Homo sapiens: one gene and its partner. The protein of the gene in region 1 interacts with the protein of each later gene in a pairwise test. Each region holds a gene or a part of one and is shown in the gene's direction. Other genes may lie near its edges.

Region 1 (8,240 bases):
CGATGTAATGTGTAGATACCACACACAAATATGTCTGGATGGATTGTCTTTGAGGTCACACATTTCTTTCTTTCTTGCTGTGTTTTCCCTTTGTCTTCACTCCCTGGCCCCTAAGGAGAGAGCAGGTGCTGTGGCTTTTGCCCAAGGAGAGAGCTCTGCAGCCAGGCTGAGAGCAGAAGTTGCCTGCAGAACACTTCTCTTTCCATCCTGTGTGATTTTCAACCTGATCCCAAAGGAAGTGAATGAGGTTGGTGGGTCCTGGAGCAGCGGGGTCCACAGGATCCCAGGGAGGGGATGGGTATGCAGATGGGGACTTGGCCAGTGTCACAGAAGACCCCATGAAGTAGTAACTATTACTTCCAGTGTACAGATAGACGCTGAGGTGTGGCGATGCTGCGTGTTGGGGCGAAACGCGCAGGAGAAGTCGTCCAGGCTCAGGGACAGAGCCCTTGCTCCGGGGCTGCTCATCGTAGATTCTGGTCCTGAGAATCTAGAGCGGGGCTCCCACTTCTCCAGGACCAGAATTACCCACATGAAGCTTCTCTTTCTCATTTCCTTCTATTTCTCATTTAAATTAAAGAGTACAAGGCATAGGATGAATCATATTGGATAAATTTCATTTAAATGTTATGCATGAGATCCAAGAAACAAAATTGTGTTCTCAAATTCACATTCAACTTGAGGTCACTTGGCCCTCAAATTCCCTTTTTCTCAACATTCGTTCATGTTTCCCTTTTCTATTTATGTCTCCTTAGATGACTGACTAGCAAACTTCTATGGACTAAGTATGGCCAGGGTATAATTGACATGAGACAGGCTGCAAGGATTGACAGTGAAAAATAATCTTTTTCACCTCTCACTCTTTGAAACCAATTTCAGTTGATTTCCACCCAATTTTAGTAATATTTATCTCAATATTGTTTACTCATCTATCCCAATACTAAGGTACCATTCATTCCAAAAAACCCTTTGAGCCCCTTGTGTCAGGCACTATTCTGTGTACTGGGGTCCAAGTTCTCCACCAACGGAGCAAAACAAAGTCTCCGCTCTGCTGCGCTTCAGTCTGGGCCCTTGGAATGAGCGAATGGTCAGGATGAAGCCGATGTAGAATCATGTTGCATTTTACAGAGAGCAAACTTACATCTAAGTACCTCGAACTCTTAGCATTGCTATAGGGAGAGTGTGTGTGTCTGGAAGGGTGTGGGAGGGAATAGCTGAAGTGGAAAACAAATACAGGGAGGACTGAGTAGGAAACACAGGGACAGGCCGGGCACGGTGGCTCACGCCTGTAATCCCAGCACTTTGGGAGGCCAAGGCGGGCGGATCACGAGGTCAGGAGATCGAGACCATCCTGGCTGACACGGTGAAACCCCGTCTCTATTAAAAATACAAAAAATTAGTTGGGCGTGGTGGCGGGCACCTGTAGTCCCAGCTACTCGGGAGGCTGAGGCAGGAGAATGGCATGAACCTGGGAGGCGGGGTTTGCAGTGAGCCGAGATCACGCCATTGCACTCCAGCTTGGGCGACAGAGCGAGACTCCGCCTCAAAAAACAAAACAAAACAAAACAAAAAAAAGAAAACACAGGGACAGGTTCCTCCCATATTTTCTAGAGATAGAAATACAGAGCCGCAGCAGTTTCTAGTTATAAATAAGATAAGAAAGGGCAACACGAGATTGAGATTCATCACAAATGGTAGAAATTGAGATTATGATTTTAAAATTCAGCCCTCAATTTAAGGCGGTTAAGTTAGACACAGAGAAATTATGTGCAAGTGAAATAGAAGGCATTGCTTTGTGGTTTTGGAAAAACTTTTCTTCTTCATTGTCCATGGGGCGTTTAGATGGAAAAAGTCATTTCTTTTTCTACCTAAAGAGGGCAAGAGCACAGTTTCTCCAACCCCAAAGCATGTGAGTTTTGCATTTGTGGACATTAAATATAAACTAAGTATATGCTTGTCAGATTAGGATAACCTGTGTGAAGCACTTATCAGCTTATTGCTCATTTAAAAAAGTTTACCCAGGCAGCCAGGTTCAAAGTTCCCCTGCTACAAGCTTCTCAGTTAGACCAGGACCTGGGCATTCCCAGCTGGAGCGGGCTCATTGCCGGGCACAGGGCAGATGCTGGCTGGTTTGCGGGCTGAGCTGAAGAACTGTCAGCGCTGCTGTAGGTAGGTGGCAGTATGGCATGCTGGTTCAGCTCCCAGCTTTCTATGCAGCTAGTTAGGGATGTAAAACCATCTCTTTGTGGTCTGAGGACAAATTACTAAATCCTTCTAGCCTCAACTTCGTCATGTGTAAAATGGAGAAGTAATAGCTCCCAGTTATTGTGAGGACTCAATCAGACAATCCATGTAAAGCGCTTAGCACAGAAGCGCTCCATGAATGGTAGTTATTATTACATCACATATGAGCACTGATCAAAGGCTAGCGGCAATTACCACCATAGCTGAGAGCTGAGGGCTTAAGGGAAACTGAATTCAGCCAACATTTCACTAACTAAAAAGTCACTGACAAATTAGACAAAACGTAGGTTTCAAAAGATTCATTTCTCTGACATTACGGAAATATGAACTGGACAACTTTTTGGGGGGTGTGTGGGGACAGTTGAAAATGTTCACTCCTTTAATCAGCTGCATCTATCTTAAACCCAGCCTGAAACCCCTGCTTAGTGTAGTATTTTGATATGTCTGCAGGGGGGTTAATTTTGGCAGAGGCGAACTAATTTTGGTGACTGCAATAAAATTGGGTTAAAATGCTCATATGCTCTGGCAGTAACCAATCCCCCATCAAACATGGTAGGGGTGGCTGGAGGCAATGCGTGTACTTCTGAACAAAGTCTGCACTCAGGTGGAGGTCAAGTCCGAAATGGTCTTCACAGGAGGTGTAGGTCCTTCAAGGAGAAAGGGTCACAGCGCGAAGAATCCATCTGACCTTCTAGGCAGGAGCCATTTCCTTTAAAGAGGGCAGGATACTAAGGGGGCGACCAGGTGGGGTCCGGGGGCGCCTCAAGCTCCTCAAGGCTCGCCGAGCACTGCTCCGTCCTACTAAGTGTCCTGCCGCCCGACTGCACGTCTCTAGGCGGCTGCCCGAGGTCCCGCGGCCCGTGGTGCACACGCAGCCCGCGAGGTACTCTGTGCTGGAACGCGCCCCCAGCCTCCCGAAACCGCCCCCGGCCTGCGGGCAGCGAGCCGGCTCCTCCGGGCGCCCCTGCAGCGTACTCTGCGCTCGGCTTGGAGTTCCCCGTGCGGCCGGCGGTGGGCGCGCGCCACGCGGGCCCGAGCCCTGGGCGGGAGTGCGGCCCCGGGTCCCGCGGCCTCGGCGCCCGCGCGCCTCCCCCACTGCCCACCCCCGGCCTCCGGGCCCGCCCCCCGCAGGGGTCGGCGCAGCCTGTGAGCCGGGGACCCCTGAGCCCCCGCCACGGCGGCCCCGGTACCCGCGGCCTGGCCGCGCGCCGGGTCCCCACCGCGGAGTGGGAAGGAGGAGGAGAGACTGGAGGAGTTGGAGACAGACACAGCCGCGGCGCGCAGTCACGGCTGGAGACAGACGGCGGCGACGGCGGCGGGAGGCGGGACACTCCCCCCTCCGGCGACTGGAGGCGGGACACCTCCCCGGCGGCCGCAGCGCCGCGTCCCCTCTCTCCCCGCGCTGAGGCTGCGGACCGGGCCCGGCGGGATTAGCAGGCGAGTGCGTTGGCCCTGCCCGCTCCGCGCGCCGCCGCGGCCGGCCGGGGATCCCCTGCAAGCCACTGAGCCGCTGCCGCCGCTGCAGCCAGACAGGCTGCGGGTGCCTGGGAAAGTGGAAGCAGGGCGGGGAGCGCGGGGGAGGCCCGGGGGTGAGGTCCTCAGCTCTTAAAGAACCCCGGCGCGCCGCGCTCCCCGCCGGCCCGCCGCGCGCCCCCTGCCGCGCCCCGCACAGCGCCCCTCCCCCTGGCCAGCAGGGCCGGTGGCCGCGGAGCCGCACTGCGGGCAGTCCCCGCCTCCGCTCCGGGGGGGCGGCCCAGGTGAGTGCGGACCCGAGGTGGCCGCAGTGGTCGGGGCTTCTGGCCCAAGTTCACCGCTGCGCTCCGGAGGGAGGGGTGGCGGGGGACTCGGGAACCGGACGCTTTGGGAACTGGACGTCCGCGAGCCTGCGCCGTCGGCTGGGGCCGGAGGGAGAAGCTGGGCGCCGAGCGCGCGAGGTCTGTGAGGCTTGGTCCGGGTGGGCTTGCCGGTGGGCACGGCGGGGATCCGGGGCTGGCCCGCGGGCGGGGTTACGCCGGTGGAGGGACTTCGCCGACCCCCACCCCGTTTTCTGTTTCCTGGTGCCCTGGGGCGCAGGGTGTCCCGCGGTTGCAAGACTGAATTCTGCACCGCCCGGAGGCCAGGATGGGCGCGCGGATGGCAGCCCCAACTGTCTCCGCGCCCCTAGGCCTCGGCGAGCCGTGGCGGGCAGGGACTGGAGGTCAGCGGGAAGCGGGAAGATCCTGCAGGACCTGACCGGGGAGTTTGCGGGAAGGAGGGGGCGGGCCAAGCCCCGCAGCCCCTCAGTCCCGCATCCTGCACCGCGCGCTCCCCGGCCCCGGCCCCTCGGGCCCGCTTCACCCGGCGTCCCCCCGGGTCCCCCCGCGCGCGTTGACGTCGGTCGCGGGACCGCCCGGAGCTCCCGGCATTGGCTGGGAAGTCGATTGTCTGGGGCTGCTGCTGTTGCACTTAGGCTGGGTCTCCGAGCCCCGGAGGAAGCAGGCGTGTGTTGAATTTCTCTCTGCCCCTCACCTTGGAATAAACAGGAAGCGACAAGCACCCAGCCCGGCCCGGCACTTGCCTTTGTGAAGGGGTCTGCCCTGCACAGCCTTTAGGAAGCTTCCTCGGGACCCCTTCCCGGTGCGCCGCCCCGGGTGGGCCTGGGGGCGCGCCCTGTGAGTACACCGGTGGAAGACAGTGGGTTCGGTTTAGGTTAAATCGCTATCGTGGCGGAGAGGGCATTTGCTTGTTTAAACTTTTTTTTTTTTTTTTTTAATTGGAAAAGGAGAAGGTTTCCCGATGAGGCAGAGGTTTTCAGGACGACAGGGACGCATGGTGGGTGGGCGGCACTGGGGGAAGGCGCATCCGAGAGTACAGCGTTCTTGGGTCACCTACCTGGAGGGACACCTCGTCGCCAGTCAGGGCAGCTAGAAGCTCTTTAAAGCAAGCAGGACTCCTTAGCTCTGCCCAGGCACAGGAATGGTTGCTGTGTGCCCATAGCCGCATGAACTAGCATGATTTTTGTTTTTCCCCCAAAATTTTTTAATTAGCTAGAATTAGATAATTTTGATTTGCTTCTTTTCTTTTCCTCTGTGTCTTGGTCTATTCCCTTCTCTTTTTCTCTTTTCTAATTATTTTGGCATCTTCTCATCCCCGGACCAGCGCTGCTTTCTAAATGTTAATTACCATTGCAATACATATTTATTGAGGGCCTACTATGTGTTAGGCATTGTAGGATGTGAGGTAAGAGTAGCTGCACAGAATGTGGGTTCTGAGCGCTAGTATTAGTAAGTTATTTGCAGTAGAGGTGGATAGAGATGGTGAGCAGCATTGACTCTCAAAAATAGGGTCCTATGGCTGGTAAGGAGGTTGGTGCCTTCTCGAAGGGCTAGTGCTGGGAAGCTTCCTTTTAAAAACGGCCCTTTCTGCCGGTTTGGCTAGCCAAGAATGGCATCCTCCTCTCTGTATCTTCCCTGGAGCTTCAGGACTGAGTATTGAATGACAGAGAAGGTTCTGCAAAGTCTGCACAGGGAGACTGCCATTGCATCAAGTCATGTCTGCATTCTGTATATGGTATTGTCTTTTCTAGTCTTTAACTCGAGTGTGTTGTCATCTGTAACTCTCCCTTTGTACTCTGCACAATTCTTCTGGAATATAGTCTTTGTGTTCAGTCAAGGATCAGAGTGTCAAATCTGAGTCATTACATAGACAAATGAGGATGTCTGAGTATTACCCATGTATATTTATTGAATTATATTTGGTTTCCCATCAACCCTTGAAATGTTATTTGATGGACCTTTCTAAGCAGTGCTTTTTAAAACAGGGGGCTAACTTCCTTATGATCTTTGAAAGCTTAATTCTTTTTAAGAGCTTCATTTTGCTATTGACATTGAACACAGTGTTAGGAATTAGGGCTGGGAATGTAAATGCCAGTAAGGGATTTGCTGTAATGGAATTGTAGCTACCTTCCTCCCTTGTTTTAAATGACCTCTCTAATTTCTTAACATTCTGCTGTTACCCTTGGAAGGGCTTGCCATTGTTGGCCATGGTCCTGGTTCGTGTAGGTTTGTATTTACATTGGAGAAGACTCTTCCCGGCAGGTTTTTAGGGCTGTCTCTTGAATCCTCTCATGGGCTTGGTTTGCAAGACCACAATCCTGCAGTGGAACGCAGCCAGTGCCAGCTGCTTATTAAGGGATTTTGTGCCAATTTGTTGGCACATTATTTGAGACTCCTGCACCCCACCCTACTCCCACTGGAGTATATACATACATAGACAAATATTTATTTTCCCCCAACTGCTGACAGTGTTCTAAGAATAGTTTTCTTGCCTGGCACGCGGAGAGCAAGGGCCCGTCTGCAGAGGTGTTTACAGTTTGGGACTGTGCTGTAGTCTTGGTTGACTTAGCAGCCTGGCAGACCAGCCTCATAGCTCCTGGGACGCTCTCTGTTTTTGCTCTGGGCTGCTGCAGGGGTAACCTCCCTGACTGATAGGGAAGCACAGTCAGAGGAGAGTGACTTTTGCTCCTTGTGCATGGTTTCTGGCAGGCAGTCCAGCAGAGATCCCTGAGCTCCTGACGTCTCTGCATGTAGCCAGCATAAAGTCTCCTTGTGGTGGGTGGGAGGTGACTGCTCTACGTCATCACGTAAAACCAAAGCCACCTCAGGGCCCTGGGCAGGAATTCTTGAAATTGTAGACTGCTCTGATCTTTCTGGTAGTCCTTGCCATGTTTCTTCTCATCTTTCTTTGGAATCTGGGCTTATCCAGTCTCTATGATGTGTCCTTCTTCCTGTGTAAGAGTTAGTAGAGAAGGAAAAATGTTATCCCTCAAGAAGTGATAAAACATTGTAAAAGAAGAGCGCACCATATTAACCTGGAAAAATTTTTGGAAATAGTTAACAGAATGTATAGCGGCACATGGATATTAAATATGAATAGCGGCAAAATTGCTATGTAGTCCAAAATTATTCTTTTCTTTCTTCCTTCCTCTCTGTCTCCTTCCCTCTCTCCCTCTGTTCCTTCCTTTTTTTAGGTCTCAGAAAAAAATCTCCTGGAAGCCATTATTTTCTGATGTCAAAGAGACTTTCTGCCTATATGAACTGTGTTAGTTTAGAATTACATCTTGACCTATATTACGGGTGTACATGGAAGATGAGTCTTAAGTTTCAAAATAGGAATGCAAAGGTTCTGTCTACTATTTGAAAATTTAGGCCACAAGACCTGCCACTTTTTAGGGACATTTTTTGGGGGGCATTGTTTGCTTCATTGTTAGGCAGAGAAAGGACTGAAGCTAGTACCTGTACTATTAATTATGCTGAAAATATTGGGTTTGAATTTTCAGTTAATGTCATTTTTTTCCATCACAGGAGGAATTGAAAATGATGTCTGTATTGTCACATATCCATGTGATTTAAGAATGGATTGCTTTTCTTTTGAGTTCTCACTAAAAATGGTACTTTGGCCTTTTAAGCTGTTTTTGTGAAGACTTTTCTTTCCACCAAGCTTGTTTTCCAGATAGGTCTTGGAGATTACAAAGAACATAGATATAATTTCTCCCTTGATTGGCAGCTGCGAGCTTTCCCGGACAAAAATAATGCTGCACTGTGCCAAATGGTTGACTTTTCTAGAATAAAAACTCTAAAGGGTATGCAAAAAGTCCTCTGGTTAATATATTGGCATTCCCAGAACCCACTAACACTCCGGCAGCCTGCCAGACTCCACTTAACGAGGACACAGAATGTCTGGCTCAATCCCCATGAGCAGACGGGGGTGGGGTCTGGATGTCCACACCCTTTATTAATTTTTAATGACTGTACTTTTGTTTTGCAGATTTTCCTCTGTACCCCCTTCTCAACCGTCTCCTACAACGTCACTCCCCCCATCCATTTATTTACTCATTTACTTGGCATCGGAAAAATGTCGAGCTGTTCAGGGTTAAGGATCCTGCTGAGGGATCATTTCTGTTTGCATGGGTTCTTTTGTTGTTGGTTTTTTTTTCTTTTTCTTCCTTTTTTTTTTGG
Region 2 (7,941 bases), on another chromosome or scaffold:
CACGACCATCACTGTTTCTTCACCGGCAACTGCATCGGCAGCAGGAACATGCGCAACTTCGTCCTGTTCTGCCTCTACACCTCCCTGGCCTGCCTCTACTCCATGGTGGCCGGCGTGGCCTACATCTCCGCTGTCCTTTCCATCTCCTTCGCCCACCCCTTGGCCTTCCTCACGCTCCTGCCCACCTCCATCAGCCAGTTCTTCTCCGGTGAGTGGGCCTTGGCGGGCAGGTTGGGCTCTACACAAAGACCTCCCACCCCAAAGGTTGCCGGGCCCCAAACCCCAACCCCAAAAGTTGCCAGATTTAGCAAATAAAAATACAGACCGTCCCGCTAAATTAAAATTTCAGATAAACAACTCATAATTTTTTAGTATAATTATGTCCCAGATATTGTATGAGATACACTGAGAAAATTTGCTATTGGCTATCTGAAATGCAAATTAAGCGGACATGCTGTATTTTATTGGTAACATCCCCCCTTGCCCCCATCATTCTCATCCATCATGCTGTCCATATGCTCACAGAGTTGTGGCATCCAGGTAATACACCTGCTCTGTGCCAGGCAGGACTAGGTGCTGGCCATTCCTCCATGTAGCCCCATGAGGTACAACCATGCTATGACATTCCTCTGCCTGGTCCCCAGTTCTGCTTACATGTCACCCAAGGACTCTGCTCTCCAGAGGTCTCACCAACCAATTGCAGTAATATTGAACTTGTTGCCAGCCCAGCCCAGCAGGAGGCTAAGCTCTGTCCTCCTGCCTATTATGTTTGACCTCACCAGCCTGTTCTCCAGCCTGCTGATGGCTCAGAGCAGAGGGAACGTGGGTGGGAGAGGCAGGTTTTTTGTTTTTTTTTTTTAAGACAGAGTCTCACTCCATCACACAGGCTGAAGCGCAGTGGTGAAAGCAATCTCTGCTTACTGTAACCTCTACCTCCCAGGTTCAAGTGATTCTCTTGCCTCAACCTCCCGAGTAGCTGGGATTACAGGTGCGTGCCACCACGCCACACTAATTTTTGTATTTTTAGTAGAGATGGTGTTTTACTGTGTTGGCCAGGCGGGCCTTGAACTCTTGACCTAAAGTGATCCGCCCACCTTGGCCTCCCAAAGTGCTGGGATTTACAGATGTGAGCCACTGCGCCTGGCTGAGGACTGCACTTTAACTAGTATGCACCAAGGACCACTACCTGATACCTGGCCCTAGAAGGACTCAGCTCCTGGTGGCAGTTCTTACCACTTTATTTGGCCTTGAGACTGGCTCCTACTGCGTTTCCTTCCACTTCCTCCCTACCCTGGCCTTTGACTCTGAATGGCTTAGCTTCCACAATCAGTAGTGTCTACGTGCTTGAGTGTGCATGTATAGCATTGCTATCTCCATTTCTCAGATGATGAAACCGAGACTCAGACGGGACTAAGTGGCTTGCCCAGTGTCTTCCTGCTACTGAGTGGCAGTCTCTGGTCTGCCTCTCAGGTCCTTAATCCACAGCTCTTCTGCAGTGGCTCAGGGAATAGAACATGCTTCCTCACCTGTTGGCCTTCTAGGAGCAAAGAAAGGCAGAGGGCAGCTACTTCCTCTGAAAGCCCAAGATTGTTTTGAGGTGCCTGGGCTGAACATTCATAAAAATTCTGCTCTACTCTGGGGGAAGCCATCATTTCAGTCTTTGTGGTGGCTACAGCCCAGTTCTTCCCAGGCATAGAACTATCATGCCATTTGGCAGTGGGAACACAGAGATACAGGGGGGACCCAGCTACGGGGGCTGCCTTCAGGGCTGGTGGCTGAGCTGGGTCCAGAACTCACAGCTTTCAGGCCTTCTGGATCCCAGCACTGGCACAGGAGGCTGCCGGGACCAAAATAACCAGGACGGGGGAGGGTGGGTGGGTGGGCTAGTGGGTGGAGTGTGAGCACAGGCAGGTGGAGGGATGAAGAGAGCCAACAAGCCTGCTTATACTTTCTTTTCCAAGTAGTTTCGCCAACCGTAAAAATGGATGGTTCCAGAAGGAAGACCTTGAAATGGTTTGATTTGAGATAAATCTGGGCTTGAGGCCTGTCCATATGTGCTAGGTTTGATCTGATGGGAGAACAGAGCCAGTGAGTGCCCACCTTGGGGCCCAGACTCCTGTGCCAGCATGAGTTCCAGTGTCTTTCACTTCCTCACCATATCCACTGGAAACAGGCGAGCAAGACTTCTTACCTCCAACTCTCCTATCTCATCTTTTGTGACCTTTCATCTTTCCTCTTGAGGACCTTCCTTTCTTTCCCTCCCATGACATACACCCCACCTGTTTGGCTTTCCCTTTCCCATTCCTCTTGTTCCCCAACCCTCAATCCGAACAGTTGGTAGCACCCTCTCTCATCTGCACAGGAGGACAGGTGGACAGAAAAGAGTAAGAAGCATGGGTTGTTTAATAGAAATTGAGTTCAAGATCAGCCTGGGCAAGATGGTGAGACTCCGTTGCTACAAAAATAAAAAATAAATAAATACACTAGCCAGGCATAGTGGCATGTGCCTGTTTTCCCAGCTACTCAGGAGGCTGAGGTGAGAGAATTGCTTGAGCCCAAGAGTTTGAGGCTGCAGTGAGCTATGATCATGCCACTGCACTCTATCCAGCCTGGGCTACAGAGCAAGACCCTGTCTCAAGAAAAAAAGAAAGAAAGAAATTGAGCTGTCCCCAACTGTGGTACAGATCTGAGTCAGATCTGTCACCAGAGCATGGATGGCTGTGAGTTTGGGCCTTGAGAGCTAAAAGTGGGAGGGGTCTTCTAGTGTGAAGGTGGCGGCCAACCACAGGCCCTCAGCTGATCCAGAGAGGGAGGCGGCTAGCTAGTTAGGTTTCAGAAGTTACCCTTTCTTTTGGCTTTGTGGGACCAGTACAGGTTGCTGTGTCACCTCTCTGAACCTTATTCTTATCTGGGAAATGGAGATGCCACCATCTGACCTGTATCTTGGCATTTGGGTAAGTACACCAGCATGATGGGTGCTACCAGAAAGTCCAGTAAGAGGGAAAGGGGACTAATGTTCATTGAGCACCTATTATGTACCACCCACTATGCATGTCACATTTCACCCATTCCTCTTGACAAGTCCATATTATCATGTCCATTTTTAAGGCTCAGAAACCAAAGACTCAGCAAGGTTAAGTTGCACCAACACCACACAGCTGGTACGATTCCAAACCAAGATTTGGAGTTGGGGCTTCTAGCCTCCAAAGCTCATACTCTTTCCACCCACCATACTGCCTCTTGGGGGCTGCCTCTCTGAAGCTGCTTCTCGAATGAGCCACTTTGGAAGGGAGGCAGCTACTTGTCCTTGGATGTATTAAAAAGTATGCTGGGTGATTATTTGTCAAAGGTGTTATAGATGCCTGTTGGGAGGAAGGGGCAGGGGAGATTGACTGATGTGTCCTTTTAGGCTCATTAGGAAAATTCTGTGATTTTTAAAAAGAGGCAGAACTATTATTAAATAGTTAAGAGGAGCTGAAGCAGCCAGGCTAGGTAACTTCAAACACTTTTAGAGAAAGCAGGTCCCCAGAATAGCCTTTTGTAGCTGCTGCATGGGGCCAAGAAAAGGCCGCAAGTTCTTTTTCTCATGCCTTGATTTAGTGCCAGGAAAAAACCCTGTGGGAAATGGCTTCCATCCACCCAGGCTTGTTCCTGGGGCAGTGTTGCAAGGCAGGCCCAAGCTTGACAGCTCTGATGTTCTCACATCCCAGCTTGAGGGCCACCTTTGCCTGTCAGCATTCCTCACGCCAAAGAGCACCATGGACCTGGGATCCTCCATCCCCCACATGGCTGCCCAAGCTAATCTGTGCCGACATGGAAGAAGTGGGTCAGGGGATGGCACAGCCCAATGTGAGCCCTGTCCCACTGCTGCCCCTGTGCCAGTGGAGGGGCTGCTGTAAATGGCAGCTGGGCCTATCTGTCCCCAGCTTTGTAAAAAAAAAAAAAAATAATACAGCTATCCAAGCTCCTAGGGATGAGGACAAGAGGAGGCTGCTAATGAGAGAATCTAAATCAGATCCACATCCTCCATGGCTGCTGAGTCCACCACTGCTCATACTGGACAAGTGTTGAAAGCCCAGTTGACAGGGCTTTGGAAATTGGAGGTTGGAGAGACTTGGGAAGAGGTGGGCTGGGGCAAGAGAAGGCTAGGGAAAGGGCAAAATATGGTTGAGATTTTCAAGGGCAGAATAGGTTGTAAGGTGGAGTCCTTAGAGGAGGTGCCCCCCCCCCACCAGAGGAGGTGATAGGGTTGCCCTACAGGGAACCAAAGGCTAAGGAATACTTTCGAATTAACTCCAGGGTCCAGTGCCCTGGCTGCTGGGTAGGTCAAGGTAAGTGTCTTTGCCACAGCTGCCAAAGTTGCAGCCCAGCCAGGACTCTAAGCCCTGAAAAGGAGAAGGAAAAAGCTTGATAGTTTCAGGAGTTGAACTCATTTTGGATGTAGTCTCCTGCTCTGTAAAATGACCCTCTGCTGGGAGCACCGCTCTGAGTGTGAACCGGAATGCTGACCACTCTGTACATCATTTTCTTGAAACATGCAGCTGTATGAAATCGTTAGTGTTATTATACCCATTGTACAGATGAACGAGCTGCAACTGAGAGGTTGGGACACTTGTGCCAGTCCACACAGCTGGGAGATTCAAACCTAGCATGGACCAGCCACCCAAACTCTGAGGAAGAGTGTGGGAGCTCTTACTCAGTGGTTATTTCAAACCAGTAATAGGAAGTGCTTGGTTTAGAGGGATTCTGGGGAGATCCTGCCCCACGACACAGGGCTGATGACCTTGGGGGCCTCTTCTAGCAAGCTTTGATTGACAGAACCAGCTCTGGTGGAATGCGGTGGTGGCCACACTGTCCTCTTGTTAACATTAATGACTGAATTATTCTCTACGTTGGTGTTCTGGGCTGCTCTTCAGACTAAGCTCGTGACTTATTCTTCCCAGATCTCCATCATGCTGTCATTTTCCTGAGTCCTCTCAACCAGCGTTCCCAGAACAGTAGGGAGAAGGTGCTGTGGACTAGACAGCTGCCCAGGCACCTGCTCCCTCTTTAGGGTCCCCAGCTCACCCCTCTCTCCTCCTGAGCAAAACCCCTTCACCCTGCTTCTAGCCCAAAAGGAGAAAGCAGAGAGAGACAGGCATCTCCTACTCTACAGAAATGTTATCAGCGGCCAGGTGCTGCCCCAGGAGCTGAGGGCTGTCCTTGCTAAGCTCATCAAACTTAGCTCTCTTCTCTGCCATGTCTCCAGTCTTCCCCTCTTGCCTCAGGTGCCATCCGCGCCAAGAAAAAGTTAGGGCAGCTGGTTCTTCCTTCCTCTCCCTCACTGCAGCTGCAGCGCTGAGGTTGCTACAAAATGTAGCGTCAATCTCATTAATCTCCCTCCCTCCCGGTGGAAAGCCTGCCTAGATCGCAGTTATGCCGGTGGCCTGGGTGTAAAGCGGCTCTGGTGTTTCCCCTCCCCGTGCCCTGCAGGAGCTGTCCTGGGTTCTGAAATGTTCGTCATCCTCATGCTCTACCTCTGGTTCGCCATCGGCCTGGCCTGCGCCGGCTTCTGCTGCCACCAGCTGCTGTTGATCCTCCGCGGGCAGACCCGCCACCAGGTGCGGAAGGGGGTGGCAGTGAGGGCCCGGCCCTGGCGCAAGAACTTACAAGAGGTCTTCGGAAAGAGGTGGCTGCTGGGCCTGCTGGTCCCCATGTTCAATGTCGGAAGTGAGAGCTCCAAGCAGCAGGATAAGTAGTAGACACTCCCGTCATTTATCTCTCTGTCTCTGTCTTGACTCCTCCTGAGCATAAAACCATGGCAGCCTTGTCTCCACCCATGACTCACTACAACCTTGTGCTGGTAAGGTCCTAGCATCTTCCCCTCACCTTCCACCCATGAGAACAGCGTGAGCTGGTGGATCATGACAAGGAGGAAAAATGTCCCCCCAGGCATTTCTAGGCTCCTCACGAGCCAGCCAGGTGGCTGCTAGCTGTTAGGCTGCCTCTGCTTTCTTTCCGTCCCCTTGGGATCCCTGCTTTCCCCCTCTTCCTGGCTCATCCATTCTCCACCGTGTCTCATTCATCACTGCTGTCTGCTAGAGCCCTTCCTCTCAGCCCCCATGTTGGGAGAGGGGAGTGGATTCTTGCTGCTGGTATGAGACTCCCTGGGACCTAGAGGCTGGCAAATGTTTAAAATCACCACGTGTAAGAGGCAGCCAAGTCAGCTCTGCCAACTGCTAGGGGAGTTGGGAAAGAGTGGGTGTGTGTCCGCATCCCCTCTGTAGGAAAAAGAACTTAGTAGCTTGCTGCTCCCTCACCACCCCCCACCAGGTTCAAGACCCTTTTTCTGGGAGACAGCAATCAATGGCCTGCTTTTTCCAAATGTTATTCCCTGTCCACCCTGCCCCATCTGGCCGGCCCAGCCCAGTCCAGGACCTGGCTGGATGCTTCCTGTCCCTGGAACTCTTCCAGCCTTTCTACTTGATCTCCAGCCCCCAGGTCTTTGCCAGATGATGGGAAGGCAAGGAAGAAGGGACAGGGAAAGATAATTACTGATAAATGAAGGGGATATTCGACTGTATAACCATATGGAAGTGTGTGTGTGTGTGTGTGTGTGTGTGTGAGAGAGAGAGAGAGAGAGATGGGTGGTGGTGAGAAGTGTTGTTAGAAACATATAGGAATAATGCCTAGGGGAAAGGGAGAAGTGAGAGGGACAATTGGGTTCATTTATGCCCTATACAAAGGGCATTCCAGCAGCTGAAACTCTTCAATGTTTGAATGGCTGCCTGTGAAGGTAGTGAGTGCCCCATCACTGGAGGTATTCCAGCAGAGTCTAGGCAGTCGTCTGCCAGGCATGCTGTGGAAGGGATTTCTGTACAGGGTCATTCTAGGTGAGCTTACACATTCCTTCCAACCCCAAGGTTCTGATGTCCTGGTTGTGATTGCTGGACCCAGAGGCAAGATCTGCAGAGATGCCTGTGAGATATTTGCTTTCCTAGAGGGGAGTGTGGGCATGGGAGGGGTCTGAAAATCAGGACCCAACCCAGCCACTGAAGAGAGAGTCTCTGCAGAGACAGGGCTACCTGGGTGGTTGAGGGGACTGACATTTGAGGACAGGGAGATGGAGCAGTGTCATTGTCAGTGGCAGGGCATGGGGGGCAGTGGTGAGCTAAGGCTGAGGAGTGGAGATGACCAGAATATAAGGGTGCAATTCCCAGACCATCCCTGCGCATCTGACTGACTCCGGTGGAGGCACTGCTGTGTGTTTTCTGAAACCTAGAGGACCAGACCTCTGGGGCATATAAGGGAGTAGGGACAACACAAGTGCCCCCTCCTGACTGGGTCCCAAAGCCAATATGACATCCATGCAGGCAGCAGTGCTGAATCCATGCCCTGCAATGTCCAACCGCCAACTGCAGTGACCCGCTGATAGCTGCGCAACAGCCTGGGTTCTTGAGCAGAGATTGGGAGGACTTTACTGTGGTTCTGCCTTCACACCCCCTAGAGAGCTAATGTAGTATTGGCTCCACCTGCTCACATTTCTCCCTCCCATACTCATTCCTTCACTCATCCATCCTACGTATATTTATTGAGTGCCAACTACGTTCCCAGCCTCTTCCAGGCACTGGCAATGCAGTGATGAACAGGATGACAAGATTCATGCCATCAGGGGCACCTTGTCACTGCCGTCTGTGCACTGATTCACACTCCCTGCAAAATGGTCACTCTGCCATCTTGGTGGTTGGTGGGGCAGGTCATTTGGAAATAAAGAATGTGATAGAGATGGCTGAAGAGGGGAAGCCTAGGCTGCCTCAATGGAGGAGTCGCTGGGGGCATTTTCACCCACAATTCTGGCCATACTTAAGCAATGGGAGGGAGAGGGAGGAGGGGAAGATCTGGGCAATTTTGGCCTTGACTCTTTCCTGGCTCCAGAGCTCAAGCTTAGAAGCCAGCCCTGCT

Evidence for each region. Proteins that work in one complex are often made in the same cells at the same time.
Region 2: the proteins of LDLRAD4 (region 1) and ZDHHC22 interact in binary tests that used the Homo sapiens proteins (3 or more experiments, as listed by UniProt).

What each region holds. Positions count from the first base shown.
Region 1 is NC_000018.10:13,214,094-13,222,333, forward strand, and holds the start of LDLRAD4 (low-density lipoprotein receptor class A domain-containing protein 4 isoform alpha 1), read left to right. Parts: upstream 1-4,666; 5' UTR 4,667-4,895; intron 4,896-8,240. UniProt on the Homo sapiens protein: Functions as a negative regulator of TGF-beta signaling and thereby probably plays a role in cell proliferation, differentiation, apoptosis, motility, extracellular matrix production and immunosuppression.
Region 2 is NC_000014.9:77,131,480-77,139,420, reverse strand, and holds part of ZDHHC22 (palmitoyltransferase ZDHHC22), read left to right. Parts: coding exon 1-208; intron 209-5,472; coding exon 5,473-5,738; 3' UTR 5,739-7,941. UniProt on the Homo sapiens protein: Palmitoyltransferase that could catalyze the addition of palmitate onto various protein substrates and be involved in a variety of cellular processes. Catalyzes the palmitoylation of KCNMA1, regulating localization of KCNMA1 to the plasma membrane.